Regions from separate parts of the Homo sapiens genome. Here regions 1 and 2 are each linked to region 3. The links come from fine-mapping of genetic effects on gene expression. A gene starts in region 3. Each other region holds a variant in brackets. All regions are shown on one strand. Distances are between the middles of the regions.

Region 1 (10,173 bases), 25 kb before region 3:
ACTAAATAACTTCAGTAATCAAGACAGTAGAGTACTGGTGGAAGAATAAATATGTAGATCAATGAAATATAATAGAGGAAACAATAGAATCACAAAAGAATGTACAACTGATTTTTTTAAAGAAAAAAGGTACAAACATGATTTAATAGAGGAAGGACGGCCCTTTCAACAATTGGTGAAGAAAAAAAAAAAGTCTGTAGGCCAAGAAAAAAAAAGAAGAGCCTCATACCTTTTACAAAAATTAACTTAAAATGAATCATTGATTTAAACATACCATGTAAAACTATGAAACTTTTGGAAAAAAAAAAAACAGGAGGAAATCTTCAAAACCTACGGCTGGGAGAACAGTACTTCAACTTGATATCAAAACTATGATCCCAGCCAGGCGCAGTGGCTCATGCCTGTAATCCCAGCAATATGGGAGGTCGAAGTGAGTGGATCACCTGAGGTCAGGAGTTCGAGACCAGCCTGGCCAATATGGTGAAACCCCGTCTCTACTAAAAATACAAAAATTAGCCGGGCTTGGTGGCACCTGCCTGTAATCCCAGCAACTCAGGAGGCTGAGGCAGGAGAATTGCTTGAACCCAGGAGGCAGAGGTTGCAGTGAGCTGAGATCGCACTATTGCACTCCAGCCTAGGCAATGAGAGCAAAACAAAAACAAACAAACAAACAAACAAAAACTATGATCCAGGAAAACTTGATAAATTGGACCTCTTAAGAATTAGAAAATTTTGCTCTGTGAAAGCTCCTGTTAAGAGAATGAAAAGAGCCAGGCATAGTGGCTCACGCCTGTATTCACAGCACTTTGGGAGGCAGAGGTGGGCAGATGGCTTGAGTCTAGCAGTTCAAGATCAGCCTCAGCAACATTTCCAGCAGTTCAAGAAATGTCTCTACAAAAAACAGAAAAAATTAGCTGGGTATGGTGGCACACACCTGTAGTCCCAGCCACGTGAGAGGCTGGGGTGGGATGATCACTTGAGCCCAGGAGGTCAAGGCTGCAATGAGCCATGATCACACCACTGCACTCCAGCATGGGTAACAGAGTGAAACCCTGTCTCAAGAGAATGAAAAGATAAATTACAGACTGGGAGAAAATATTTGCAAGCCAAATATCCAACAAAGGATTTAGTATCTAGAATATAAAGAATTTCCAAAACTCAACAGTAGAAAAGCAAACAATATAATTAGCAAGTGTACTAAAAACATTTCACTGAGGAGTAGATACAGGTAACAAGCTAATAAAAAGATGTTCAACCTCAGTGATTAGGGCAATCTAAATTAAAACCACAATGCATTATCACTACATGCCTAACAGAGTGATAAAATAAAAAATGTCAAATTCTGGCAAGGATATGGGAAAAACTGGATCACTCTTACATGGCTGGCAGGAATGTAGAATGGGATAGCTACTCTGGAAAATATTTTGGCATTTTCTTTTAAAACTAAAAGTGCACTTACCATACAACCCAGCAATTGCACCCTTGGGCATTTATCCCAGGCAAATGAAAACCTATATGCGCTCTGCAATCTATACATGAATGTTGATAACAACTCTATTTATAATAGCCAAGAACTAGATACCACCCAAATGTCCTTCAATGTATAAATGGTTGAAGAAACTGTAGTACATCCATACCACAGATACTACTCTGCAACATAAAGGAAAAAACTACGATAGAATTAGGCCTTGGCTGGTTCTCAAGGGAATTATGCTGATTGATTTTTTTAAAAAGCTACAGACTGTATGACACTACATAAGTGATTCCATTTACGTAATGTATTTGAATAACAATATTAAAAGATGGAGAACAGAAGAATGGCTGCTGGGGTTATGGACTGGGGAGAAAGAAGGTAGATGTGACTATAAAAGCATCAGGGAGGCTTATGGTGATGAAATGGGTCTGTATCTTGATTGTGGTGGCAATTACACAAAGCTACATGTATGATAAAACTGCATAGAACTACATACACACACAAATGAGTGCATGTGTAACTGGTAAAATCTGACTAAACCCTGTGGATTGTACTAATGCCAATTTCTGGGTTTTTGTTTTTCGTTTTTTGTGTTTTTTTGAGAAGGAGTTTCATTCTCATCACCCAGGCTGGAGTGCAATGGCGAGATCTCAGCTCACTGCAACCTCCGCCTCCCAGGCTCAAGCGATTCTCCTGCCTCAGCCTCCCGAGTAGCTGAGATTACAGGTGCCCGACACCATGCCCGGCTCATTTTTGTATTTTTAGTGGAGATGGGGTTTCACTATGTTGGCCAGGCTGGTCTCAAACTCCTGACATCAGGTGATCTGCCTGCCTCAGCCTCCCAAAGTGCTGTGGTTACAGGCGTGAGCCACAGCACCCGCCCAATTTCCTGGTTTTGATACGGTATGTAGTTATGCAAAATGTCAACATTGAGGGAGGAGGGGTGAAGGATGCACAGGACCTTTCTATACATTTATTTGCAATATCCCGTTTATAATTATTTCAAAATAAAACATCTAAAAAAGAAAACTGGCTGTTCAAGCAAAAATAATAGTATAGACTGTGGTTTATAACAAATGTGTAAGTAAAACGTATGACAACAACAGCATAAAAGCTATGAGGAGGGAAACAAAGGTAGACTCCTGTAAACTTATGTTATGTGTGAAGTGATACAATATAACTTGAAGGTAGACTGTGATGAGTTAAAGATAATTCTAACCAGCCAGGCATGGTGGGTCACACCGGTAATCCTAGCACTTTGGGAGGCCAAGGTGGGCAGATGACCTGAGGTCGGGAGTTCGAGACCAGCCTGACCAACACGGAGAAACCCCGTCTCTACTAAAAATACAAAATCAGTCAGGTGTGGTGGTGCATGCCTGTAATCCCAGCTACCTGGGAGGCTGAGGCAGGAGAATCGCTTGAATCCAGGAGGTGGAGGTTGCGGTGAGCCAAGATTGTGCCATTGCACTCCAGCCTGGGCAACAAGAGCGAAACTCCGTCTCAAAAAAAAAAAAAAAGATAATTCTAACTATCTTGGCTGGGTGCCTCAGCTTACATCTCTAATCTCAGCACTTTAGGTGGCTAAAGTGGGAGGGTCGCTCAAGTCCAGAAGTTTCAGACCAGCCTGGGCAACATGGTGAGACTGTTTCTACAAAAAATCAAAAAATTAACTGGGCCTAGTGGTACACACCTGTGGGCCCAGCTACACGGGAGGCTGAGGTGAGAATATCACTTGAGCCCAAGAATTAATGACTGCAGTGAGCTGTGATCACACCACTGCACTTCAGCCTGGGCAATAGAGCAAGACCCTGTCTTTAAATAAAATAAAATGAAATAAAATCTTTAAAAAAAAGAAGAATACAGCTGGAAGACTTATGCTACCTGACTTCAAGATTTATTTAAAAGCTACAGGAATCAAAACAGTGTGGTTTGGTATAAATAAGGAAAATAGATAAATGGAACAGAATATGGAAATCAGAAATAGATCCATACATAAATGGAGAACTAATTTTTTACAAAGGTGCCAAGGCAATCCAATGGAGAAAGGATAGTTTTTTCAAGAAATAGTTCTGGAACAATTGGATATCCACATGCAAAAAAGAAAGAAATGAACTTTGATCCATAACTCACACCATACATAAAAATTAGCTTAAAGCCAGGCACGGAAAAGTATTACCTATTCAAAAATTAAACTAACTAGCTGGGTGCAGTAGCACATGCCTGTAGTCCCAGCTACCTGGGAGGCTGAGGCAGGAGGATCCCTTGAGCCTAGGAATTTAAGAACAGCCTGGGCAACATATAGAGACCCCATCTCAAAAAAAAAATCAATTCAAAATAGAGCATTGACCTAAATGAATAACCTAAAACTATAAAACTTCTAGAAGAAAACACTGGAGAAAAATTTTGTGGCCTTGGGGCAAAGATTGCTTAGACATGACACCAAGAGCATAACCCATAAAAAATAAATATAAAGTGAACTCCATCAAAATTTAAAGGTTAAGCTCTTCAAAAGATACTCCGAAAAGAATGAAGACAATCCAGGTCGAGCGCGGTGGCTCACACCTGTAATCCCAGCACTTTGGGAGGCTGAGGTGGGCGGATCACAAGATCGGGAGTTCGAGACAAGCCTGGCCAATATGGTGAAACCCCGTCTCTACTAAAAACACAAAAATTAGCCAGGTGTGGTGGCATGTGCCTGTAGTCCCAGCTACTCGGGAGGCTGAGGCAGGAGAATGGCTTGAACCCAGGAGGCAGAGGTTGCAGTAAACTGAGATCATGCCACTGCACTCCAG[C/A]CTGGGCGACAGAGCGAGACTCCCTCTAAAAAAAAAAAAAAAAAAAAAAAAAAAAAAAAAAAATGAGGACAATTCATAAGCTGGGAGAAAAATCATCACAAAGCACATATCTGATAAAAGACTTGTATCAGGCCGGGCACGGTGGCTCACACCAATAATCCCAGCACTTTGGGAGGCTGAGGCAGGCGGATCATCTGAGGTTGGGAGTTCGAGACCAGCCTAACCAACATGGAGAAACCTCGTTTCTATTAAAAAATACAAAATTAGCCGGGCATGGTGGCACATGCCTAACCCCAGCTACTCGGGAGGCTGAGGCAAAAGCATCGCTTGAACCTGGGAGGCAGAGGTTGCTGTGAGCAGAGACCGTGCGATTGCACTCCAGCCTAGGCAACAAGAGTGAAGCTCCGCCTCAAAAAAAAAAAGACTTGTATTCATGCTAATAACTCCAAAAATTAATAACGAGAAAACAACACAATTTTTTAAATGGCCAAAGGATTTTTAACAAAACATTTTAACAAAAGACTGACCATCCCAAGAGTCAGCAAGGATATGAAGAAACCGGACTCTCACACATCATTGGGAATGGAAAACAGTACAAGCACTTTGTAAAACATTTTGGTAGCTTCTTAAAAAGTTAAACAGGCCAGGCACAGTGCCTCACGCCTGTAATCCCAACACTTTGGGAGGCCGAGGCGGGTGGATCACGAGGTCAAGAGATCGAGACCATCCTGGCCAACATGATGAAACCCCATCTCTACTAAAAATACAAAAATTAGCTGGGTGTGGTGGCACACGCCTGTAGTCCCAGCTACTCGGGAGGCTGAGGCAGAATTGCTTGAACCCAGGAGGTGCAGGTTGCAGTGAGCCAAGATTGTGCCACTGCACTCCAGCCTGGTGACAGAGCAAGACTGTCTCAAAAAAAAAAAAAAAAAAAAAAAAGTTAAACATATTTTGGGAAACCAAGGCAGGAATATCACTTGAGCCTAGGTGTTTTGAGACCAGCCCATGTCTACAATAAAAATACAAAAAATTAGCCAGGTGTGGTGGTGCGTGCCTGCAGACCCAGCTACTCAGGAGGCTGAGGTGGGAGGATCACCTGAGCCTGGGAGGTCGAGGCTCTGGTGAGCCGTGATCACACCACCACCCTTCAGCCAGGTGACAGAATGAGACCCTATCTCAAAAAAAAAAAAAAAAAAAAATTGGGTCCAGACCTAGTGGTTCACACCTGTAATCCCAGCATTTTGGGAGGCCAAGGCGGGCGGATTGCTTGAGGCCAGGATTTCGAGACCAGCCTGGCCAACATGGCAAAACCCCATCTCTACTAAAAATACAAAAATTAGCCAGGCGTGGTGGTGGGTGCCTGTAATCCCAGCTACTCAGGAGGCTGAGACAGGAGAGTCGCTTGAGCATGGGAGGCAGAAGTTGCGGTGACCCAAGATGGGGCCACTGCACTCCAACCTGGGTGACAGGGCAAGACTGTTTCAAAAAACAAAAAAAATTTAAACATAACAGGATTTTTAGGGCAGTGAAACTACTCTGTACAACACTACGATGGTGGATACATGTCATCATTAAAGGTTTGTCCAAACCCATAGAATGTACGACACCACATGAACCCTACATTAGGGTAAGAGTGAACCAACCCTACTGTAAACTATGGACTGAGTGATAGTGATGTCAATGTAGGTTCATTGATGGTAACAAATACACCAACGGTGCGGATGGTGATAATGGGGGAGGGTTTACATGGAGCAGGGCAGGGTGTATATGAGAACACCCTGTACTTTCAGCTCAATTTTGCTGTGAACCTACAACAGCTCTAAAAAGTAAAAGTCTTTTTTTTAAAAAAAAGGAAAGAAGTACTGATAAATGCTACAACGTGGATGAACATTGAAAACACTGTGCTAAGTGAAAGAAGCCAGTCACAAAAAACTATATACTGTATGACTCCATTTATATATGTCCAGAATAAGTAAATATATAGAAAAAGAAAGTACATGATTAGTGGCCTACAACTGAGGCATATGGAGGAGAGAATGGGAAATGACTGCTAATTGATATGGGTTTTCTTTTGGGGTGAAATATTCTAAACTTAGATTGTGGTGCTGGTTGTTGCACAACTTTGTTAATCTACTAAAAACCAATGAATTGTGTCCATTTTAAATGGGTGAATTTTGTAGTATGTTAAAATCTTAATAAAGATGTTTTAAAACTGTTTAAATCACTATGGTAACTGAAGAAATCATTTATGTAAGGTATATGCATGTGAGGAAGAGATATATACTCAGAAGTAAATACATACGTCCATAGGTTCAATAAATTCCTTTTAGTTATGATCTTAAATCAGAGGTAAGCAAAGGGAAGCAAGTGTGCCTTGTGTGCTGATACTATTCTATAGAATACTGGTATGCTTATCTCCCCTTAAAGAAAGGGGAGTAAAAGCCATACTGGCTATAAACTCATGTTGTTTAAAATGTATAATGCATCAAAAATAAGTCTGTATTAAACATCCTTTGTTTAAAATATACAATGGAGGCCAGGCACAGTGGCTCATGCCTGTAATCCAAGCACTTTGGGAGGCAAAGGTGGGTGGGTCACTTGAGGTCACGTGTTCGAAACCAGCTTGGCCAACATGGAAAAACCCCGTCTCTACTAAAAATATAAAAATTAGCTGGGTGTGGTGGTGGGCGCCTGTAGTCCCAGCTACTCGGGAAGCCAACGCACAAGAATTTCTTGAACCCAGGAGGTGGAGGTTGCAGTGAGCTGAGCTCGCCCCACTGCACTCCAGGCTGGGTGACAGAGTGAGACTCCATCTCAAAAAAAAAAAAAGAAAAAATTAAATTTAAATAAAATATACAATGAATTAAGGGTAAAGTCATAATAAAAACAACTGGCTGGATGCAGTGGCTCTCGCCTATAATCCCGGCTACTCACAGCTACTCAGGAGGCTGAGGTGGGAGGACTGTTTGTGCCCAGGAGTTTAAGGCCATAGTGAGCCATAGTCACGCAATTGCACTCCAGCCTGGGTGACCAAATGAGACCACATATCTAAAAAAAAAAAAACCCAAAAAACCTACCACATGATCTAGCATTCTACTGCTGGATATATACCCAAGAATAACACAAAGGCACATACACAAATGTTCAGAGTAGCTTTATTTTAATAGCCAAATATTGGAAGTGATCCAAATGTCCATCGACAGGTGAATGGATTAAACAAACTGTACAGATGTGGTATATCCATACAATGGAATGTTATTCATCAATAAAAAGAAAAGAATTGACACACACAAGACACAAGAATCTAAAAAATAATTATGCTGCGTGAAAGAAGACAGACAAAAGAAGAGCACGTACTCTATGATTCCATTTATATAAAACTTAAGAAAATGCAAACGAATCTGCAGGGACAGAAAGCAGTTCAGTGGCTGCCAGAGAGAGGGTTTTCTCAGGGGGAAGAGGCCTAAGAAAACTTTTGTGGGTGATGGATATGATCCCCCTGTTGATTGTGGTGACAGTTTCACAGATGTAAACATATGGCAAAACTTATCAAATTATCCACTTTAAATATAAGCAGTGTATTGTATATCAATTATACCTCATTGTGGCTGTTTTAAAAAGATGACTCCAAGCTTAAGAAAGATAAACCAGGAGGGGTAGATCATGCCTGTAATCCTAGCACCCTGGGAGGCCGACGTGGGTGGATCACTTGAGCAACCTGGTCTTAAGCTCAGGAGTTCGAGAGCAGCCTGGGCGATATGACAAAACCCTGTCTCTACAAAAAGTACAAAAGTTAGACAGGTGTAGTGGCATGGGGCTGTAGCTCCAGCAACTCTGGGGGCTGAGGCAGGAAGATCGCTTGAGCCCAGGAAGTTGAGGCTGCAGTGAGCTGTGCACATACCTCTGCACTCTGGCTGGGTGACCAAGCAAGACCCGGTCAAAAAAAAAAAAAAAATAGGGGTTCCATGACTCTAACAACCCCTCCCCGCCCAGGGTGTGCAGGGGAACTGAACCAAGAGCCTCATTCCTGGCCTTGCTTTTTCTGAGCTCAGGCCCAGGGCTTTGCACAAGCTCAAATGTGCATTTTACAAAGGCAATCAGAGCAGCCTGTCTCTCCTCTCTGATACTTCTGGGCCCTCCACATCGCTACCCCCATATTTAAACGGAAGCTAAGAGACACTACTATCTATGTGCTTATGAAACCCCAGCTTCACTCCACCCCCACCCTGGGAAAGACTTCAAATTCAATAATTCTAAGGAGAAAGATAAGCACAAACAGATCTATTTTATTCCGTGTACAAAGTTCTAACAGAAGAAATGCCTCGCCCAAGATAGAAGTTGTTATTTCTTTCTTTACTGAGAGGTATTTGCCCCTTTGCCATAGTATAGATGAGAACAGGAAAATACTTGGGATATCGCTGAGGGTCACGTTATCTGTTATAATGAGGTTTGGCTCCATGGAATAGAAAAGTTGTTTTCATACTGCAAGGATTTCTTTTCATCACTTTGTTAAAGACCCGGAATAAACAGTCAGGAACTGTTTTGGCAGCTCTGTGAAGTCATCAGGGTTTCGGCCTTCTGTTTCCTCCAGCATGTGACATCCATCCTCAAGGTCACATGATGTCTGCTGAAGACTTGATCTAAGCAGTAGAAGGAAGAAAGAGGGGAAGGCAAAGAGAGGGGCCCTGGATGTCCTAGAAGATAAAAGCCAGGCTACCAGAGAGGAAGTCAGGTGTTTGGCCATTTGGAGTCAAACAGATAATAGACACTGGAACCAATCCTGGGATGGCATTTAGGCACCTTGGAGGGTGTGCCCTAAGAGAGCTGATCACTGGAGCTGAACAGGGCCTCTGGGTACAAGGACCACATAACAGTATGGTGCTTAAATTTTCCCCTTTTCTTGAAAAGTTGCTGCAAAGCGCTCCCCTCCTAAGTTCTGGCCCCGTCTTTCCGGGACTGTATTAGAAGTGCAAGCAGGGCCTCTCCTAACTGTGGACCAAACAGGCACTGGGAGACCCCACTGACACTTTCCCTGAATACCTCGCATCTTCCTCTGAGCACTCAGCTACCCAGTGTGTCTGATACCCATGGTGATTTGGGTATGTGGGTGGATCCAAGCAAGACAAAAGTTTGCTGTTCCTGAACACACACTTGAAAAGTGGTAAGGTCTCAACAAATTCATAAAAGTGAGTTCAGTATGTTATCATTAGGGGGAGTAGTAGGAAAGTGGTAGGAGGTCTGTTCAACAGTGGAAGGTTGGAATCAGACAGTAACAGCCACAGAGAAGGTAGTCAAAGGGTGGTTGCTGTCATCAGACCAGGCTCTCCTGCCCACCAACCGCAGGCCACAATCCCAGCCCTTCTCTCTGATGTCAGGAGCTGGGGAGCATCTGCCTTGCCAAGCCTTGTGCGATCGGCTCCTGGCAGCCTCACACCTGGTAGGATGAGGGACGGGGAGTGAGCCAGAGCCCCTCTGCTAAGCATAACTTTGGTAAGTGGGCAGCCTGCCCCTGAAGAATCAATACTGACAGAGCACTGCTGCCTTCCCTGCTGACCACACAGGGACTACGGGACCTTTCTCGGCTTTGGCACCCTAGCCACACGATGCCCCAGAACCAGTTTCTACTCAGCTCTGGGCTCTCCCACCACTGTCAGTGAATGAGATCAGAGTGAATCCAGCCGTACGTCACTCCTTAATACATTCAAAAGCACAGAGGACGTCCCTGGATGCAAAATCAGGAGAGGGTAGGAGCCCTGGAAGGGAATATCCTGCCCAAGTGCAGTACTTCACTATAATTATTACAGTAATACACTATTTCTGTTTAAGACCATTTCAAAGGGCACTAACTGGCATAAAGTAAAATAAGTCTGCTTCCTCCCCACACCTAGCTGCACTCTCTAGGGACCA
Region 2 (10,173 bases), 58 kb before region 3:
TCCGCCCCCTGAGTTCAAGCCATCCTCCCTCCTCAGCCTCCCAAGCAGCTGGGACCACAGATGCATGCCACCAAGCCTGACTAAGTTTTTGTATTTTTGGTAGAGATAGAGTTTCGTCATGTTGGCCAGGCTGGTTTCCAACTCCTGAGTTCAAGCTATCTGCCTGCCTCGGCCTCCCAAAGTGCTGGGATTACAGGCATGAACTGTTGCACCAGCCAAGTCATTCTTTCTTTAGAGACATGAGATGAAGGCTGCTGGCAACCATTTTGGGACCATGAGAATTAGGAAGAAATTGTGGCCAGGCACAGTGGCTCAGTTTGTAATCACAGCACTTTGGGAGGCTGAGGTGGGAGGATGACTTGAGACCAGGAGTTCAAGAGACCAGTCTGAGCAACATAAGGAGACACTATCTCTATAAAAAAAAAAAATTGTTTTAATTAGTCAGGCTTGATGGTGCAGGCCTGTAGTCCCAGCTACTAAGGAGGCTGAGGTGGGAGGATCACTTGAGCCCAGGAGGTCAAGGCTACAGTGAGCCATGATTGTGCCACTACACTTCAGCCTAGGAGACACAGTAAGATCCTGTCTCAAAAAGAAAAAAGAAAAAAGAAAGAAAGGAATTAGATCCTTGGGGAATTGTTGAGCCTTACCCAAAGCCCCACTCTGACACTAGATTTCTTTTTCTTTTCTTTTTTCTTTTTTTTTTTTTGGTAGAGATAGGATGTCGCTATGTTGCCCAGGCTGGTCTTGAACTCCTGGCCTCAAGCGATCCTCCTGCCTCAGCCTCCCAAAGTGCTGGGATTACAGGTGTGAGCCACAGTGCCCAGTCAGCTGACTCTAGACTTCTTTTGTCCCAGAAGCAAATAACGGCGTGTATTGTATAAGGCAGTTGAGCTATGCTTTTCAGTTTCTTGATGTTCAAAAAATGACCCGAAATAGAGAGTTATAAAAAATTGAAACTAGAAAGGTATTAGAGGGTTAAATCATGAAAGGCTTTCCTTGCCCCATTCTAAGGCATTAGACTTTATGCAGGCAGTAGGAAATCCCATTGAAAACTGTTGAGGAGGGAGGTGGCACATCAAATCTGTTTTAGGAAATTGATGGCAGGATGAAAGATAGACTGGAAGGGAGAGGGATTAGAAGCAAACCAACAAAAACAACGATTGATTAGTCATGAGTCTCGGCTGGTAAAGGACATTTTATCAAATATCTCCAGATGTCCACATGGCCTGGAGTGGGGAAGAGTAAGAAAGCAGAGATACCTATGGCAACCTCTCTTCTTATCAGAACCAATGGCCTGCCCTTCACCCTTAAGAGCTTAGTGTATACAGCAGAGAGTCCAAATCCTAATACTGTATTACAATACCTCAGAAGGCTACCCAGTTGTCATAGAAGCTTCAAACAACAGGAAATTTTTAATTTTAAAACAAAGTCCATTTTAATTTAAATTTTTAACTAACATTTTTAAAAGGCGGGGAGTAGGATACAACCCCAAAACAATAAGCTTTAACGGAGTGTCTTCACTACCAAAAGTTTGTGAATCACTGATCTAAATCATGGCACTCCCAGCACCCCTTCCCGGAGCGGGTGCCAGTCCTGGCATGGGTTCCCAGCCCTCTGGGGAGCTACTGGTGTGCTAAAGCTTTGCAGTGCCTGCGGACAGGAAGAGGCTCCAGAGCTCCCAGAGCTCCCATCCTCAGATCCACAAAAAAATGCGAATCTCTCCTAGAGCAATGTAAGTGTCTTGATTCCTCTTCCTGTCGCCTTTCCCCGCTGCCCTTTCTGCTGCACTGTTGCAGCACTGGGCTGATGACGCCAGGGCAGTGAAGGTTCCTTGCCCCCCGCATCTTCCCCTGTGCTGAAGCAGCGCATGGTAACCTGGCTGCCCGTGTTCTGATGCATTCTCCATTCTTTCCCACAGGCACACTCCCACCTGCATTCCAAACTGACTGTTTCATTTACATAATTCCAATAGCTTTCACTGCCAGCTTCCTGTTTTTGTAAACTCATGTAGAATTTTTTAGTTTCATAAGAAACAAGGGCCCCAGCTCACAATCACCCTCTACCAACATAGTTTATCTGCATCAAAGAAGACAGGGAAGCTTCTGTCCATTGGTTTCCCTTCTTATTTTAGAAATAGAAGCTTAAAAAACACCCCAGTGGTTTCCAATCCAGAGAGTTGCATATAAGCTTTTGACTTTACTGGTTACTGGCTTCCTGTTAACTGAAAGAAGTTTCAAGCTGAGTCAGAGAAGAGAACCGGGCCCAGCAGTGATTCATTAGTGTTGCTAATGACACCCCTACCGCCACCACCATCACTGCTGCTTTTGCTGGGGCTGCTGGGGCCTCCATGTTAGCCTAATCCTAAGAGAGCAAGAAACTGAAGCCATTGTCCTGATTTTCTCTTCCAGATGGCATTGCAGTGGCAGCAGTGAGCACAGGCCAAGCAAGACTGGCCTTGAGATGAGGAGGCCAGATGGGCCCTGAATCAGGGTGGTTTCAGGATGCCCAGGAAGGCACTGCTGCTGCAGAATAACTTCCCCCTCTCCCTGCCCTCCCTTTGCACAGTGCCTGAAGATTCTTCCTCCTTCTGAGCTTTTCTGGTCTTCCTGTAAGATACAAATACAGCTTAAAAGGGCTGCTCATACCCTAATATGATTAATGTGATGAGCTCACTTTGGAAAATACTAATCACTTGAGACATGCAGATGGAAGAGATGCTGAATTATAACCCAAAAGACTACCAGGCCAGAAAAGACAGTCAGGAAAGAGATGCAAGTGTCAACTACTTCTCAGTTTTGCCCAGATCCGGGCTTCACTGCAGGGTCATAGTCAGGAGCATCTGACCACCATACAGCCAGCAGTGCAGGAAGTGTTCAGCACTCTTCAGCCATGACTCTAGTTTAGGGATTTCTCTCAGTGCCAAGATCCTCCTGGAGGGCTCCAACAAACAGCAACACATAAAAAAAGTTGCTTTAGAAATGCATCTATAACAACAAAGGGTTCCCAACCCATATTCTTGCAGCTAAGTCTGTCATATGCATTATCTTATCTAATCTTCACAGCAACCTAGGAAACATCACTTCTCCTGATTCTACAGATGAACAGTGAAGATGATGCCACAAGTAAATTTCTGACTTAAAATATCATATTCCATCACAGTATAATTGATTAATTCCTAGACTTTAAAAATCAACATATCATTCACATAACATAAAATCTATCATTTTTTAAAGTAAACATAAAATCTATCATTTGTTAAAGTATACAGTTCAGTGGTTTTTAGTATATTCACTATGTTGTGCAAACATCACCACTAGCTAATTCTAGAACATTTTCATCACCCCAGGAAGAAATCTTGTACCTATTAGCAGTCACTCCCAATTCCTCCCTATGCCTCTCTCCCTGACAACCACTCCTCTACTTTCTGTCTCTATAGATTTGCCTATTTGAACATTTCATATTAATGGAATCATAAAATGTAGTTTTTTTGTGACTGGCTTCTTTCACTGCATGTTTTCAAGAGTCATCCATGTTGTAGCATATAATAGTACTTCATTCCTTTTTATGGCTGCATAATATTCCATTGTATGGATATACCACATTTTGTTTATCCATTCATCCATCAAAGAACACTTGAGTTGCTTCCCCCTTTCAGCTATTGTGAATAACGCTGCTATGAACATTATTGTACAAGTTTTTGTGTGGACATATGTTTTCAATTACCTTGGGAATTCCTAGAGTTTTTATATATCTGAAAACATAGGTAAGTCTAAAAGAAATGAGTATCAGCTATGGTATTGCATTCATTACAAGGTATTTATAATATGCCTGTTTTCAATAAGGATTTGCAGTATTCCCACCATGATATCCTATGCCACCTGTAGTATTGTACCCGTCACACTGAGTCTGTTTCCACAACTGCATGGAGTGCTCTTTGAGGGAAGGGACCCATCCTGTTCACTGTAAACAATTTCTTAAGTATAAGTCGCTACCTGTCTGTGAAGCAGCAGCACCTTCCTGGGCATGCTGAAACCACCCTGATTCAGGGACCATCTGGCCTCCTCATCTCAAGGCCAGCCTTGCTTGGCCTGTGCTCATACTGCTATACCACCTGGAAGAGAAAATCAGGAGGCTTCAGTTTCTTGCTCTCCTAGTATCAGGCTAACATGGAGGCCCCAGCAGCAGCAGGAGCGATGGTGGTAGCAGAAGGGGTGTCATCAGCAACACTAGTTAGGTGGGCCAGAGCTGAATGGACTGGAGTTGACATCTGCCCACGGGACAGCCAGCAGCACAGAAAGTGCTCAGACATGGAAGTTCTCCCCACAGTCTCCTCAGGCAGGAATGGATCAATTAGACCCTCCTCGAGTGGATGGTGGTTGGTATAAGCCAAGAGACACAAGAGAGGAGGCAGCAAGCAGCAGCCCTGAGGAAGCAGAAGTTCTAGGGTATTGAGAACGACATGTAGTTGTTCAGTAACTGCTGGGCTGGCAGAGAGGCTGAGACAACAGACTCGTGCAGCTGGGAGGACAAGGGGCTGAGTCTCTGCCACTACATGAGATCTTGAATAATTTTTCACTTCCCAGATTATGTTTCACTCCACATGAAAAGAGCATATCTTACTGCTTAGTTGCGCTCTCTCTGCCCACGGATAGCTCACAGATGCCTTTTTCATTGTTGTGTTTTGCAGAGATGGGGTCTCACTGTGTTCACAGGCTGATCTCAAACTCTTGGCCTCAAGGGTTCCTCTTGCCTCAGTCTCCCAAAGTGATGGGATTATAGGAGTGAGCCATGATGCCCACACTCAGCCCGCTCCTCTTGCCCAGAGAGTTTGCACATGGACTGCTGCTCCCCGACCCCCTCCTCCAGCCACTTCTCTCCAATAGCAAATGCCCTTCCCCTGGTGAATGCCCATTCCTCCTGGGATCTCAGCTCAGCATCACTTCCTCCAGGAGGACCCCTTGGAGCAGTAAAATCCTCTCCTCTAAGCCCTCACAGCTGCATCAGCGTCTTTGTGACACCACTGCTGTAAGACTGCATCTATGGAGTGATTCATTCATATTGATGCCCAGCTACACAAACACTCCATTAAAGTAGAGACTATTTTGGCTCAGCTTTGTATCCCCAGCACCTAGCCTGACACCTAGCAGGGCAATAAATATTTGATGAACGAATGAATTCATCGTTTTTTTCCAGGAAGGAAACAAGTCCAATTTTTAAGTAGTTAAGGATACAAGACCTTCCCATTGATCTTGTAGTAAAAAATCATATTGGATTGACAAAACTCAAGGTATATACAAGGCATGTCCTGGGACCCTCTCCTTCTGCCATAGGAAGGACAATACCTTGGCATGGGAGAGAAGGGGGCTGGGATCAGGACTGGGCTCATTGTGTGAGGTAGTCTCAAGTCCTTACATGAGGAGGCTCATTGAACAGCCAAAAAATTGATGAGTCTCAGGTAGGGGTCTCAGGAAGGTCTCCCCTGC[C/T]TACCACGGGAACTACTCTCACTATGGGGCAGTTCTGATAGGCCTCTAAGGCATGAACTGGTAGAGAGTGTGTGTGTGTGCATGTGTGCATGCGTGTATGAGTACATGTGTGTGTATTTGTCCTGTACTCCAGATTCAGGTAAGGAGCAGCTTGGGGGGCTCAGGCGCAGCCCCTGAATAGGGGAAAGTGGAGGTAGGCAGAGAGGGCAGAAGAAAGCAAGCCACTTTCAAAACAACCCTCCAAAAACATCTGAGAGACTTTAGTGTAATAATCTGATTTTGTGAGACAAAGATCCAGAGGGCGTTGGGCATGAGTCCAGTTCAGAATCAATCTGGTGGGCACCTCAGGGCTCAAAAATACTCTCTTTACCAGGCCCTGACCTGGGCCACCTGTTATTGGAGCTGTGGAAGTTGGAATTCAGTTTTGATTAGGGCAGAATCCCAAAGAGGTCTTTAAGATAAAGTGGCTGCAAAAGGAACCCCGAAAGAACCATAGAAGTTAAACTACAGAAACCAGTATTTAGTACCATCAAGCTGGTTATCACACGGCTTCAGCCACAAGCAAAGATTTGGCAGGAATGTGAACTCAAAAATCAGGACTGTCAGGCAGCAGGCTTGATAAATCAGTTACTTCTTCTGGTCTCCTCTATCATCCTCCCCTCCCTGCTTCCAAGATGTAGGCTGAGGGGGAACACAAGATGTAGCACTGGTTTCTGCCTGACATACATTCTCTGGGCCTACTGGTCTGAGAGCATTAGAAGGACACAGGGATAAATCAAGAGGACCCAGCATGCTGAGAAAGATGTGAGCAGAATTAGTTAATTCTACTCCCTTGGACTAGATAGCACGTTGAGAGGCTCTGTGATTTCTGAAATCCTGTATGAAAATTATACAAGATCTAATGTTTCAAGGTTCCTTTAGTCAATTTTATCAATAAGGGATGTGAAATACCAACACTGCTGATAAAATATTCAGAAATTATATTACCACAGCTTTTGACCTGACATCTGTGATAAGACATATTTAAAAATCGACCCTGGTGGCTTTTAAGGCTAAAAGACTGAAAGACATTATTACTGATTTTGCAGTTAATTTGAAGAACCACATCTGATCTTCCATTGTCCTTTCTCATCAGATCAATACCTTCAAGTGTATTGTCAGTTAAAATGCTGCAGTACTGCAGCAAATTTACATACCCGATTGGTTCTGTGGCAGTGATAAGCACAAAGTGGTGTTAATGACGGGACTCTGGGCTGTCCTTTGCAGACTGGAGAGGAAATTATTGAGTCTCCTCCAGGTGCGTGAGAGGAGAAAGGAATCGCACTCTCTCCCCTGCCATTCTTCTCACCTCCAACCTACACAAACAGCTTGATTCCTACCTTTGTTTCTCCCATGTGCTTTTGGGAGTACCACTGAATGAGAGTGACCTGAATTATCTACAAGATATGGTAAAAGCAAATCATCCCCAAATTCCAATACTTTTTACTGTAACTGAAACAAGTCACTTTGATAAACCTTGCAACTCATTGGGACGTCTCAACTTTGTGCTTTGTTCTGTACTGGAAACCACCTGCTCCCCTCTCTGCCACTCCCAGGTGTTTACTTTTCATAATTTTTGCTAACAGCAATCACACCCCTTCCTTGAGCCCTCGGGGTAGGTTGAAACTACATTTAAAGAAGCACACTAGGTCTCCCTACCCCACTCCCAAAACATCATAAACACACCTATTAACACACACACACAAACGTTCAGCGCCCCAGGTAGGTTTCCCTGACCTTTTGGTTTGCTAAAGACAACTTTAAAAGCCAAAAAATGACTTGCAAACTTCCTTTATGTTCTGCAAATTTAAAATTTCCGCATATATATTACACGAATCAGTCACCTACCCTACTTACCCACCATATCAAGTTTATATACAAAGACTAGCCAAATAACTTCCAACAAATGGATTTCTTTAAAAAACAAAAAATAAAAAGAAGGAAAATTTTGTTTCTAGGCTTAAAGTACCTTTGTCAACTGGTGACAAATAAAACAAGATTTCAAGGGATGATTAAAGACCCTGGGTCAATGCCCTCACTCTCCAGGGAAATCGTTGACTCAATCCTTATAAATGGATTCCATGGATCACTGTCCTCCATTCTGATATTGTTGGTGATTATAGTAAAATAGCCAAAGTCATTCAGTCTTACTATCAACAGATGGTGCCTGCTTTTCTCTCATACTTGCCTAAAAGCCTCTGTTACAAACTCAGAAATAAAATGGGAACTTTTTGAAGAAACGTCAAAAAAATATGCAATAAAAACTGTAACAGGTAGACTCGGAGCACAGGCTTTTGAGCAGGAGCTGATGTTATTACCACAGACACCTGTGACTCTATACTGGGGACTCAGGCCTTCCAGGATGTCTAGCACAGAAAGAGATGACTTCAAGAAAGCAGACTGTCTACCCCAAGATCAGCAAAATAAAATCTTCTTATTAAAATTCTTTGTATATATGTTAAACTAGAAAATTGAAAGGAAAAACTTCAAACAATAATGATTATGTAGAATATATTAATAGATTTTATCTATAAACTACCCAAAACCATGGCAACAATGGTTAAATATTATTCAAAGTGCTTTTATTCAGTTCCTTCACCTTTACGTCATGTAGGTTATTTACTTAGGCTCAATAAAAATCCATCCTCTTTCCTGTAAGATTAAACTGAATAAATCAAATTTGCAACAATAACCAAGACCCAAATCTCATTTAATTAGATATGACAAGCCACTTTTAAGGAACAAGAACTATGCTTTACAGGTTGGGGAGGAATGCCTACACACAGTAATGTGTCGGTAAGTGTTTAACAACCAGCTCTGCAAAGGAAAAAAACACACTGTGTTGTTGCATTTGCCAATTTCTGTGGCATAAATATTCCTGTCATGGCCAATGTTAACATGACATCACTGAATGTGGAGTTGAGAAGACATGAAATGGCACACCATTATAAAGTATTTCCACCATAAAGATGCAATATTCAAGTTGAATGATGAAGAATCATTAAATAAATAAATGCAATAGATGCAGAGAGGCCAGGCACAGCAGCTCATGCCCACAGTCCCAGCACTTTGAGAGGCCAAGATAAGAGGATCATTTGAGGCCAGGAGTTCAAGAACAGTCTCTGGGCAATATAGCAAGATCTTGTCTCTACAAAAATAAAAATAAAGTAAATAAATGGGCCAGGTGCAGTGGCTCATGCCTATAATCCCAGTACTCTGGGAGGCCGAGGTGGGAGAGTCACTTGAGGTCAGGAGTTCGAGACCAGTCTGGGCAACATGGTGAAACCCCATCTCTACTAAAAAATACAAAAATTAGCCAGGCATGATGGTTGGCACCTGTAGTTCCCTGCTACTTGGGAGGCTGAGGCAGGAGAATTGCTTGAACCCGGGAGGCAGAGGTTGCAGTGAGCTGAGATTGTGCCACTGCACTCCAGCCTGGGTGACAGAGTGAGACTCTGTCTCAAAAAAAATAAATAAATAAAAAATAAAGTAAATAAATGAATTTATTTAATAGATGCAAATAAGCTTAAGAGCATAGATAAAAATAAACTGCCATACAATAATTAGTAAGAGATAAGTTTTGAGTATTTATTGCCATTGTTTTAAACATAATTTATTTAATTGTATATCATAAAGTTTAGTTTCTCATAATGGCCATGTTTAACAAGCAGCTTACAAAATTCCTACAAATTTAACAATCAGTTCTTGCAAGCCAGTATGAGCCGGTTCCAGCACACCATTCCCAGAAAACTGCCCTGGAACTTATTCTGTGGTTTATGGAATATCAGCTTTACAGATAGTAAAGAATTGCCTAGCAAGTTAGGAAAATGACTAATTTGGAGGGGTCTCAGACAAACGAAACCTCATAGAAGCAAACTGGATGGTTTTTGTTCCTCAGCTCAGTAAATACACTAATAAGGGCCTGTTAAAGCAAACTAAATATGGCCTGAGAAGGACTCCGTATTTCTATATTTGAGTACTTGTGGACAAACTGTAACCTTGTAATAGGCAGACAAGATTGAGAACCTAACTTAGGAGTATGCGCCTGTAACAATAGCTGAGTCTTGGCCAATCCCAGTGGCCATACTTCAACCACTCATAGACTGCTAAGTGTTTAAACTGTGTTCAAATAAGGCAAATGCCAACCCATAGCCAATCCAGCTGTTTCTGTACTTCACTGCCAATTTCTGTATGTCATTTCTCTTTTTTTTGTCTTAAATTTGTTCTGACCATGAGGCATCCCTGGAGTCTCTCTGAACCTGCTGTGATTCTGGGAGCTGCCCGATTCGCAAATCATTCATTGCTCAGTTAAACTCCTTTAAATTTAATTCCGCTGAAGTTTCTCTTTTAACAGGCCATAAAATAATGTGACACATAAAAGTACATTACAGATATGGAGGATTTACAAGTTAAGTCTCAAACCAGAAGGCTCTGGTTTTTGAAGTCTGTAACAAGGATGTATTGGTGTATTAACATCTCTTATACATGATGTAAATAAAACAAAATTTCAAATGAGTTATAGGGAATCAGAAAAATCTCAAAACAATTTAGGAGGTCAAATCTGCATGCGAGAAAAGAACTTGACCATAAAGAAAAACTGTGAAAACACGACTAAACTAATACCCTCCTGGGCCACATCCCATGGGGGAGC
Region 3 (9,367 bases):
CTTTGGGAAGCTGAGGCGGGAGAATTATTTGAGCCCAGGAGTTCAAGACCAGCCTGGGCAACATGGGGAGACCCTGTCTCTACAAAAAGTTAGCCAGGTGTGGTAGTGCATGCCTGTGGTCCCAGCTACTCGGGAGGCTGAGGTGGGAGGATTGCTTGAGCCCACCTCAAGGTGGGTGCAGTGAGCCATGATCGTGCCACTGCACTCCTGCCTGAGCAATGAAGGAAGACCCTGTCTCAAAAAAAAAAAAAAAAAAAAAAATTAAGGGAATCAATAAATCTCCCAAACTCTGTTAGTCCTGAGTTGGCTAAGCACCCCTCCACTAGCCACAAGAAGCTAAGAGTTATTGTTTTGCTTTTTGTTGTTAATGACTGACATTCATGGTCTTTCATTCAATAAATTTTTTAAAATTTAGGCTATTATAATATTTCATGTTTGCCTATACATTTAGTATTATTTAGTAAAGAGCATAATTTTAAAAAATAACAATTAACTGAAGAAGCCTCGAGATCCCTTCAATAAGTTTTTAAACTTTATGAATAATCTACTACAGTCTTTAAAATTTTTCTGTTTTAAATGCCTAGTTATTGGTCCATTACATCTACAGGGGATGCATACACATATTCAGAAACATTTTCTTATGATAATTAGAATTTGTTGTTAACAGTCATAATTGTGTTTTACCATTGATTATTGTGATTATCATAATGTCAGAGGGATGAACAACACATTCGAAACTGAGAAGAAGGAAGACTGCCCAAAGGGCCTGTTGTTAGAGTCTATGCAGGGACTCCTGGGGCTATTAATTATTTATCTACTTTTCAAAGTTAATAAATAGGAATGCCTTTTTGCCCTTTATTCCCCAGAAGAACTTAACCAAATGAGAGATGGGGTGGGTGTGTGCAGAGATGGCAGTGTGAGAATATAAGAGGTATGGGTAATGAGAAGGAGATTTAGAAAAACAAATACTTACTGTCAAATATACTTAATAACATTGCCTTATCTGGCATGTTTTTATTATGAACATTTTGATGTTTTTTGAGTGTTCTTTTAAAAACGTGTGCTTTAGAAGCATAACATTAATAAAAAAGAAAGAAAAATTATATACAATCTCACAACCCAAATAACCCCTTGGCACTTTTTAAAAATACTTCATACTGGCCGGGCACGGTGGCTCACGCCTGTAATCCTAACACTTTGGGAGGCCGAGGGGGGCGGATCATGAGGTCAGGAGATTGAGACCATCCTGGCTAACACGGTGAAACCCTGTCTCTACTAAAAATACAAAAAATTAGCCGGGCATGGTGGCGGACGCCTGTAGTCCCAGCTACTCGGGAGGCTGAGGCAGGAGAATGGTGTGAACCCGGGAGGCAGAGCTTGCAGTGAGCCGAGATCGTGCCACTGCACTCCAGCCTGGGTGACAGAGCGAGACTCCGTCTCAAAAAAAAAAAAAAAACTTAATACTGTATACAGCTGTAAAATTCAAACACCAAGGAGTAGTATTAAATGGAAAAATAAGAACTTCTCCCCTCACTACCCCACTCCATCCATCAAAGAGAAACCCTGTTTATGCTTTTCTTTCCTACCAGAGAAAACAATATGTGCATATATACATAAATTTATTTATCAAAATGCATCATATTATGCACACTGTTTTGTAACATGCATTATTCACTTAATAACATATCTTGGTACTATATCCATATCAGTACATGGTGATTACCACTTTCTTTTTGCTCTTAATGCTTCAGGCCAGAAGCAGTTGCTCATGTCTGTAATCCCAGAACTTTGGGAGGAAAAGGCAGGAGGATTGCTTGAGCCCAGGAGTTAAGATCAGCCTTGGCAACATAGGGTGACCCTGCCTCTAGACAAAAAATAAAAAATTAGCCAGGTGGTGTGCACCTGTAGTTCCAGCTACTCAAGAGGCTGGGGCAGAAAGACCACTTGAACTTTGGAGGTTGAGGCTGCAGTGAGCTATGACTGCACCACTGTACTCCAGCCTGGACAACAGAGCAAGACCCTAACTCAAAATAAAATAATAATAATAATAATGCAGCCAGGTGCAGTGGCCCATGCCTGTAATCCCAGCACTTTGGGACGCCGAGGCAGGCGGACCATGAGGTCAAGAGATCGAGACCATCCTGGTCAACATGGTGAAACCCCATCTCTACTAAAAATACCAAAATTGGCTGGGCGCAGTGGCTCACGCCTGTAATCCCAACACTTTGGGAGGCCGAGGCGGGCAGATCACGAGGTCAGGAGATCGAGACCATCCTGGTTAACACGGTGAAACCCCGCCTCTACTAAAAATACAAAAAATTAGCCGGGTGTGGTGGTGGGTGCCTGTAGTCCCAGCTACTCTGGAGGCTGAGGCAGGAGAATGGCATGAACCCAGGAGGCGGAGCTTGCAGTGAGCCGAGATTGCGCCACTGCACTCCAGCCTGGGCGACAGAGCGAGACCCCATCTCAAAAAACAAAACAAAACAAAAACCAAAATTACCTGGGGATGGTGGTGCACGCCTGTAGTCCCAGCTACTCGGGAGGCTGAGGTAGGAGAATCACTTGAACCTGGGAGGCTGAGGTTGCAGTGAGCCGAGATTGCGCCACTGCACTCCAGCCTGGCGACAGAGCGAGACTCCATCTCAAAAATAAATATATAAATAAAAGTAAATAATAATGTTTCAGTGACTATCTTTGTACCCATAGCTGAGTGTTAAATGTTTTTTTTTTTTAATACGGCCCATACTGCAAAAGTGCTGCAAGTACAAACTAAGCAGTCTAATCCCAGCTGTGTGGTAGGAAAAGAATGATCTCGTTTCTATGGTTCATTTCAGTTCCTTCAGGAAATTTCCTGCAACATTGTTATTTATATCAAATGGGTCTCAAGAACATGAGAGGGCTACTGAGAAGAGGACTGTTTTCCACCTAGAGGAAGGTGAATATGTCTAACTGTTCACTGCTGGCTGTAAAGGCGCCTGTGGCAAAGCAGTCGTCCTGTCTTTGCGCTTAAATCCACCTGGTGTGCCGCCCCTACCCTTGCTTACAGGACTGTACTGAATGCCCATGGCATGAATGGAATGTTTGCAGAAGGGGAAAATAAGCAAGCGCTGGAGAGACATGCATAGAACAGCAGGTAAAACTGCCAGATGACTATGCCCTTCACCCACTCATGGAAGGCCAATATGAAGCCGTGTTCAGAGTCGTCTGCCCAGAGCTACAGAGGAATACAGCTGAGTGGCAGGGCTGAGTAAGAAAGTGACTACAGAGTCACAGCTCAGAAACAATCCTAACCAAAAAACCATCTTACACCTCTGCATTTAGCTGCCTCAAATCCTTTCTAAATGAAGAGGGATTTAAATTTTATTTTAAAATATTTCAACATAGTACTTTTCCAAATATTTGTTATATTCGTTATCTCATGACCCACACATTAACTCTAGCAAGCAGGTATGCCAATGTCATTATCCCCACTTAAACATGACATGCCTGAGGGGCTGCGAAAGTTAAATGACTTGCCTAGAGTCAATCAGCTGACCAACTGTTCTGGCCCAAGAACTGTGCTCTCCTGAATTCTCCCAATCCCACCCAGGCCCAACAAGTCCAGCTGGACAATTTTAGTGTTCCAAAGAAAAGCTAGGAATGAAGCTGGAGATATAAATATAAAAATATTCCTTCCCAAAGACACCTGAGATCTGAAAACACCTCTTCCTAACAAAAATTTAACAAATTAAATATCAATGTTGCTAAGTGCCAAGTTGATATACCACACTTATATCTGGACAGAACAACTACAGTCTCTACTAGTTACAAAGACTTGTGAGAAATGTTGGTTTTATGTTTTATTATAAACATTTATACTATCTCAGCTTTTTAAAATATGGTAGAGTTTAATTTTTACAGTTAAGATATTGTCTTGGGGTCAGGAGTGGTAGCTCACACCTGTAATCCTAACACTTTGGGAGGCCAAGACGGGAGGATTGCTCGAGCTCAAGAGTTTGAGACCAGCCTGGGCAACATAATGAGACTGTGTCTGTATTTAAAAAAAAAAAAAAGGCCAGCATGGTGGCTCACACCTGTAATCCCAGCATTTTGGGAGGCTGAGGTGGGCAGATCACGAGGTCAGGAGATCGAGACCATCTTGGCTAACACGGTGAAACCCCGTCTCTACTAAAAATAATAATAATAATACAAAAAATTAGCCGGGTGTGGTGGTGGTTGCCTGTAGTCCCAGCTACTCGGGAGGCTGAAGCAGGAGAATGGCGTGAACCCAGGAGGCGGAGCTTGCAGTGAGCCAAGATCGCGCCACTGCACTCCAGCCTGGGCGACAGAGCGAAACTCTGTCTCCAAAAAAAAAAAAAATAGTTGCCGTGGGCAGTACTAGTGATTTGTTAATTATATATCCAACACCTATTTCTTGAGTTGCCTTCTAGTCTAGTCTGGACTGGCTTATAGGAACGTTTTTCAAACTTTTTTGACAATGGCCTACAGAAGAAATATATTTTACTTTGTAAAGCATAGACATGTGTCTGTCATTGAAACAAAAATTTCACAAAATAATAATCACCCCTCTTTTGAGTGATTCACTTGGATATCTTCTATGCTTTTATACTTTGCCACCTTATTTTTAAAAATACAAATTATGGCCCACTAAATGGATTCCATGACTTACAAATGGGTCACAACCCAAAAGCTGAAAAATACTGGCTTATATGAACAATACACAGATCGTGCCCTCAAGGAATTTATACATTAGTTGGGAGTCTCATACAGTTCACAGACCTCTTACAGTTGGAAAGGCCTGGAGGTCAATTAGTTCCACTACCTACTCGATATTTGATTCTACAGCATCCCTGAAAAAAGGTGAGAAATGTGAAAAAGGCTTGTTTGCTATTTCAAGGACAAGAAGTTACCTCTTATTTGGAACCTAACACAAGATGGGTCAAATAGAGACCCGTTTTTAACAGGTCTCTATTTAAAACAGTACAGAAGCAAATACAAATGAATCAAGTATCAAAATACACACTTGATTTCTTTTTTCTAAAAGATAACTTGGACCTTTGTTCCTAAACCCATCTTAGTCCTTTTTAGGAGGAGGGTGAAAAGGGGAAGGTAAATCAGGGGGACAGAGGTCTAGAAAGCCTTCTCTCTGATGACCTGAAGAAGGGGTCTTAGCAAGTTACATCACAAGCAGCCTTCGTGATTGAGGAGCCTAATAAATGACACCCACAATGACGGCTAGGAGAGTGGAAGTCAGGAAAGGCTCCCCTGAGGAGGTTTGAAATGAGCTGAGTCTTGAAAGACTGACTGGCATCAGACAGGTGAAGAAAAGACGGGAGAGTGTAGTCAAAGACTCTCAAGGAGAAATGAGCCAGTACATTTGGCGGACAGTAGACAGGTCCCTGAAGAGGAGCAATAAGAGATGAAGCCAAAAAGAAAGACTGAAAGCAACCTGTGGTGAGCAAGACAGAATTTGGATTTTATTCTGTAGGTAATGTGGTGTTACTGAAGGTTCCTCAGTGTGTAGAGTGGTATTTCAGAATTGTTCATCTGCACATAGACCTGAAACTTGGCTTTAGAAAGACCTAAAGACCCAGAGTTCAGATAACAGATTCTCAAGCTGTGTTTTAGTACAGAGAAAAATGTTCTGTAAGGGACTTTATAAATTCAGAATTCTAACACGAGCAGTGTTGGTTACCTAAAAATTAGAAAAACTGGAATATAGAGTTTAGATAGCAATGGAATCCAATTTATTTTTCATCATTTTACTTTTGTTAATGAAGTGTGAGCTTTGTCTGTAGCTGCCATGAAGTGACTGATTTCCTTTATAAAACCTACAGTCTTTATTCAGAAGCAAGTCTTCAATGTTGCTATGGGCCTAATAAATTATTATAAACCATTTTGCAAAAATTAAATTTTGCCTAAACAACACTTTTAATAATAAGGTTGTCTAAAGTTAATATACAAACAGGGCTCTCTGAGGGTGTTAACTATCTAGTAATTCAGGCTCTGCTGGATACAGTGACAGAGCTCTATGAACCTCAACTAGAACTCAGGTCGGCCTCAGGTGAATATAAACACTGTATGTGAGTCACCTTGCAATTACAGCTGCCACCTGGAAGCAAATTTAAGCAGTAAGAACTACAAAACCAAATCCCTGTAAGATCCTGCATTGACCTTCCTCTTACTTCTTCCTGTCTGAGGATCCATAAACCTCAGGATTCTTTACTAATTTCTCATCAGCATCATTTTTTATTGTATTTCCAAATTTAAAAACAACTGTCTCCAAAGGCCTCAAAATTACTTTCAGTTATTACTATAATAAATATCAGCGATGTATGATGTATTAATTAGAAACTAAGGTGTTTTTTTTCCCCTCCCCACAGGAAAACTACTTCAGAGAAAGACTTTAAATTTCTGAGAAAATCTTTATACATATTGAGTATAGATGCTATCAACCACATACATGAAAATAATTGTTTGGGGATAATGCACACCATTTGCCAATGATTAAGATTCAGCCCAGTCTTTGTTGCTGCATTTCTACATTCACATAAATTGGTAAGTCATGATGACACAGAAGGCTCACATGCCACGTAAAAATTTCAAGCCTGGATCTGAATGGGTGCCTGAATCCTTCTCAGAATGCATATTTTGGAGGCAACTGTTTGGTTTATGTTACTGCTCCCTAAACTGGGCAGTGACTCAAGAGGCAGCTGGAAGAGAGAAGGAGGTGCTGGGCAAGTGCTAAAAAAGAGTGAAGCCTCAACAGCAGAGTCCCTCCCCTTCTCTACACACCACACAGCCTTTTTGTGACTTCTTGTCCCCATAAGATATGCTCCTCTAGACTAACTCCCCTTCCCAGGGTGGAGCAGAGTCTCACCGGCTCATTATCTCACAGCTCCCGGGATGGCCCCGGGTACAGCAACTGTGTGGCACTTGGCTGTGGAAATTCAAGTTTTTCCACCCTAAAACAAGTAGGTTGTGAAACCCGATTTCGGTCCTGGTTACCATTGAGAGGGGCCTACCACAGCCCTGTGCCTGGAAGTTCCTGCCTGTCGAAGCTCCTAGCCCCCTGCCCCATCCTCACCTTCTGCACCTGATGGAGAAGGTGCAGTCCCTCCGCGCACCTTACATGCCCATGCCACACTGGTGGACTCACGCACGCACGCCAACTCTGCCATCCCATGCACGCCCGGCTTCGGAGGGCGGCTACGAACTTACTGCTCGTCGAGCCAGCCGAGCCAGGGCGCAAGGGGAAAGGCCCGAGCGGGGCCGGGGATAGGATCGGATAGGAGTCGGGGTCGTGGATGGGGTCGGGGCGGACCCCGCCGGCCCGCTGGCCTCCCTCCCCTGACCCCCGGGACAGCCCCCGATGCACGTGCTGGGTGACAGGCCCCCTATAGGTTCCATACCTGCCACCGGAAGTGAGTGAGGAGGGCAGTATAGGCATTTCCTGTGACGCGAGCGCCTGGACTCCATTAGGCAGCAGCTGGGGGAAGAATCAACACACCAGGGAGCAGAGCGGAGCGGATCCGAGGACAGAGGCGGCAGCTGCCTCCGCTGCCGCCCGCCGCCGCCGCCGCCGCAGCCACTGCCGGGGCTCAGCCCAGCGGCGGGCCCCGCGCCCCCGCAGCCGCCCCGCGGCGCCCCCCGGCGCGACCCCCGGGCCGCGCACCCCGAGCTGCCTCCGGGAGGGGGGGGGGAAAGGGCCCGGATCCTCCTTCTCCCCCTCCTCCTCCTCCCCCTCCTCTCACCCTCACCCTCACCCTCCTACCCTGACCCCCTCCCCGCCTCCCCGGCCCCCCTCACCCCGACCCTCTCCCCGGCCCCCGCCTCCCCTCCCCCGCCTCGCCCCACCGGCTTCCCACCACGGCCTCTCTCGGCGAGGAAACTCTGGCCTCCGCTTCCTCCTCCTCCGACTCGGACACCGGCGGAGCCTCCCCGCCCCCGCGGAAGAAACCCCGAGCCTCGGCGGCGGAGGGAGTAGGAGAGCCCGGGGCTTCGGCAGGCAGAGCAGGCCTCTCCCCTCCGTCCTCGTCGTCCTCGTCCTCCTCCTCCTCCTCCTCCTCCGTGGTGGTAGTGGTGGGACTTCCCCCGGCTGCTGCCCCTCCCGCCGCCGCTGCTGTCCCCCACCGAAGTAGCGGCCACAGCCTGGTCAGCGGCAGCATCATGCAGGCCAATGGGGCAGGAGGAGGAGGAGGAGGTGGCGGCGGCGGCGGTGGAGGAGGAGGGGGCGGCGGGGGCCAGGGACAGACCCCGGAACTCGCCTGCTTGTCGGCCCAGAACGGGGAGTCGTCCCCCTCGTCGTCGTCGTCCGCGGGGGACCTGGCCCACGCCAATGGGCTCCTGCCTTCCGCCCCCTCCGCCGCCAGCAACAATAGCAACAGCCTGAATGTCAATAACGGGGTTCCCGGCGGGGCGGCCGCCGCATCCTCAGCCACCGTCGCAGCTGCCTCCGCCACCACCGCCGCCTCCTCTTCCTTGGCCACCCCAGAACTGGGCAGCAGCCTCAAGAAGAAGAAGCGGCTCTCCCAGTCAGATGAGGATGTCATTAGGCTAATAGGACAGCACTTGAATGGCTTAGGGCTCAAGTAAGTATCCCTTACCGCCAGCTGGTGATGGACAGACCGAGGGACGGAGGCTCCAGGGGGGTAGGGGAAGGGGCGGAGGGGGGAGGGGGGCTTGAAAGAGCTCGGTCAAAGAGAATGAGTGCTGGGCACGCAGGACCCAGTACACAGGAGGACGCGGCTCAGGGCGACCGGGGAGGAGGAGCGGACCTGAAAGGAAATAGGGGAAAATCAATCAGTCTGACAAATTGTGAGACGAGACAGGCGTTGAGGGGTTAGGAAGGGTTAGGAGAAACCCAAAGAATGACTTCTCCCCACGCACCTTCAGAGCTTAATTGTCTGTCAATAAAGACAGATGCGGGAGTGTGTTTCTGTATGTGTTGGGGGAGGGGTGGATTAGAGCTGGTGGAAATAATGAACCTTGGAGGATTTGTTTTTCAAGTGTATCTTGGAGGCATCTTTGTGGGACACCTCCCCACCCCCAACCGTGGCAGACAACAACCCAAGCAAACTACCAATCAGGAAAGACAATCACCTACAAGTGTTTATGGGAACGGAGGGGCTGGGATCATTTGGAAAGAGGTTGTTGAATAAATCTGATGCGAATAATGAAGATACAGTGTTGATGTCGTTTAAAGGCCCTTGTGTGTGTGTACAAGAGGCCTAACCCTAACTAGTCTGAAATCTCAGTTTAATACCAAGAAGATGATCGCCTCTGAAAAGGGGACATCTGATCTGGTGAACCATTTGTTTTCAAATACAATTTAGGTGGCCTTGTATACCTAACATAGGGTGAAGGT

The links. PIP is the estimated chance that this variant, and not a neighbour inherited with it, causes the effect.
Region 1: its variant is the best candidate, but not a certain one, in a credible set for the expression of WDR26 in blood mononuclear cells (TOPMed, PIP 0.61).
Region 2: its variant is the best candidate, but not a certain one, in a credible set for the expression of WDR26 in whole blood (INTERVAL, PIP 0.65).

The regions. Positions count from the first base shown.
Region 1 is chr1:224,457,930-224,468,102 of GRCh38, reverse strand. It overlaps a transcript of CNIH3 not described here. Among named protein-coding and RNA genes, the nearest start is that of WDR26, 28 kb to the right of the region's middle. The variant C/A (reference allele first, on the strand shown) is at 4,267.
Region 2 is chr1:224,490,435-224,500,607 of GRCh38, reverse strand. It overlaps a transcript of CNIH3 not described here. Among named protein-coding and RNA genes, the nearest start is that of WDR26, 61 kb to the right of the region's middle. RefSeq lists enhancers at 1-366, 1,742-2,273, 2,349-2,548, 2,274-2,803. The variant C/T (reference allele first, on the strand shown) is at 5,484.
Region 3 is chr1:224,432,908-224,442,274 of GRCh38, reverse strand. It overlaps WDR26 (WD repeat domain 26), which reads left to right and starts at 7,478. Exons shown (of 14, transcript NM_001379403.1): 1 at 7,478-8,591. The coding sequence starts at 7,870. It also overlaps a transcript of CNIH3 not described here. RefSeq lists an enhancer at 6,570-6,759 and a silencer at 7,100-7,499.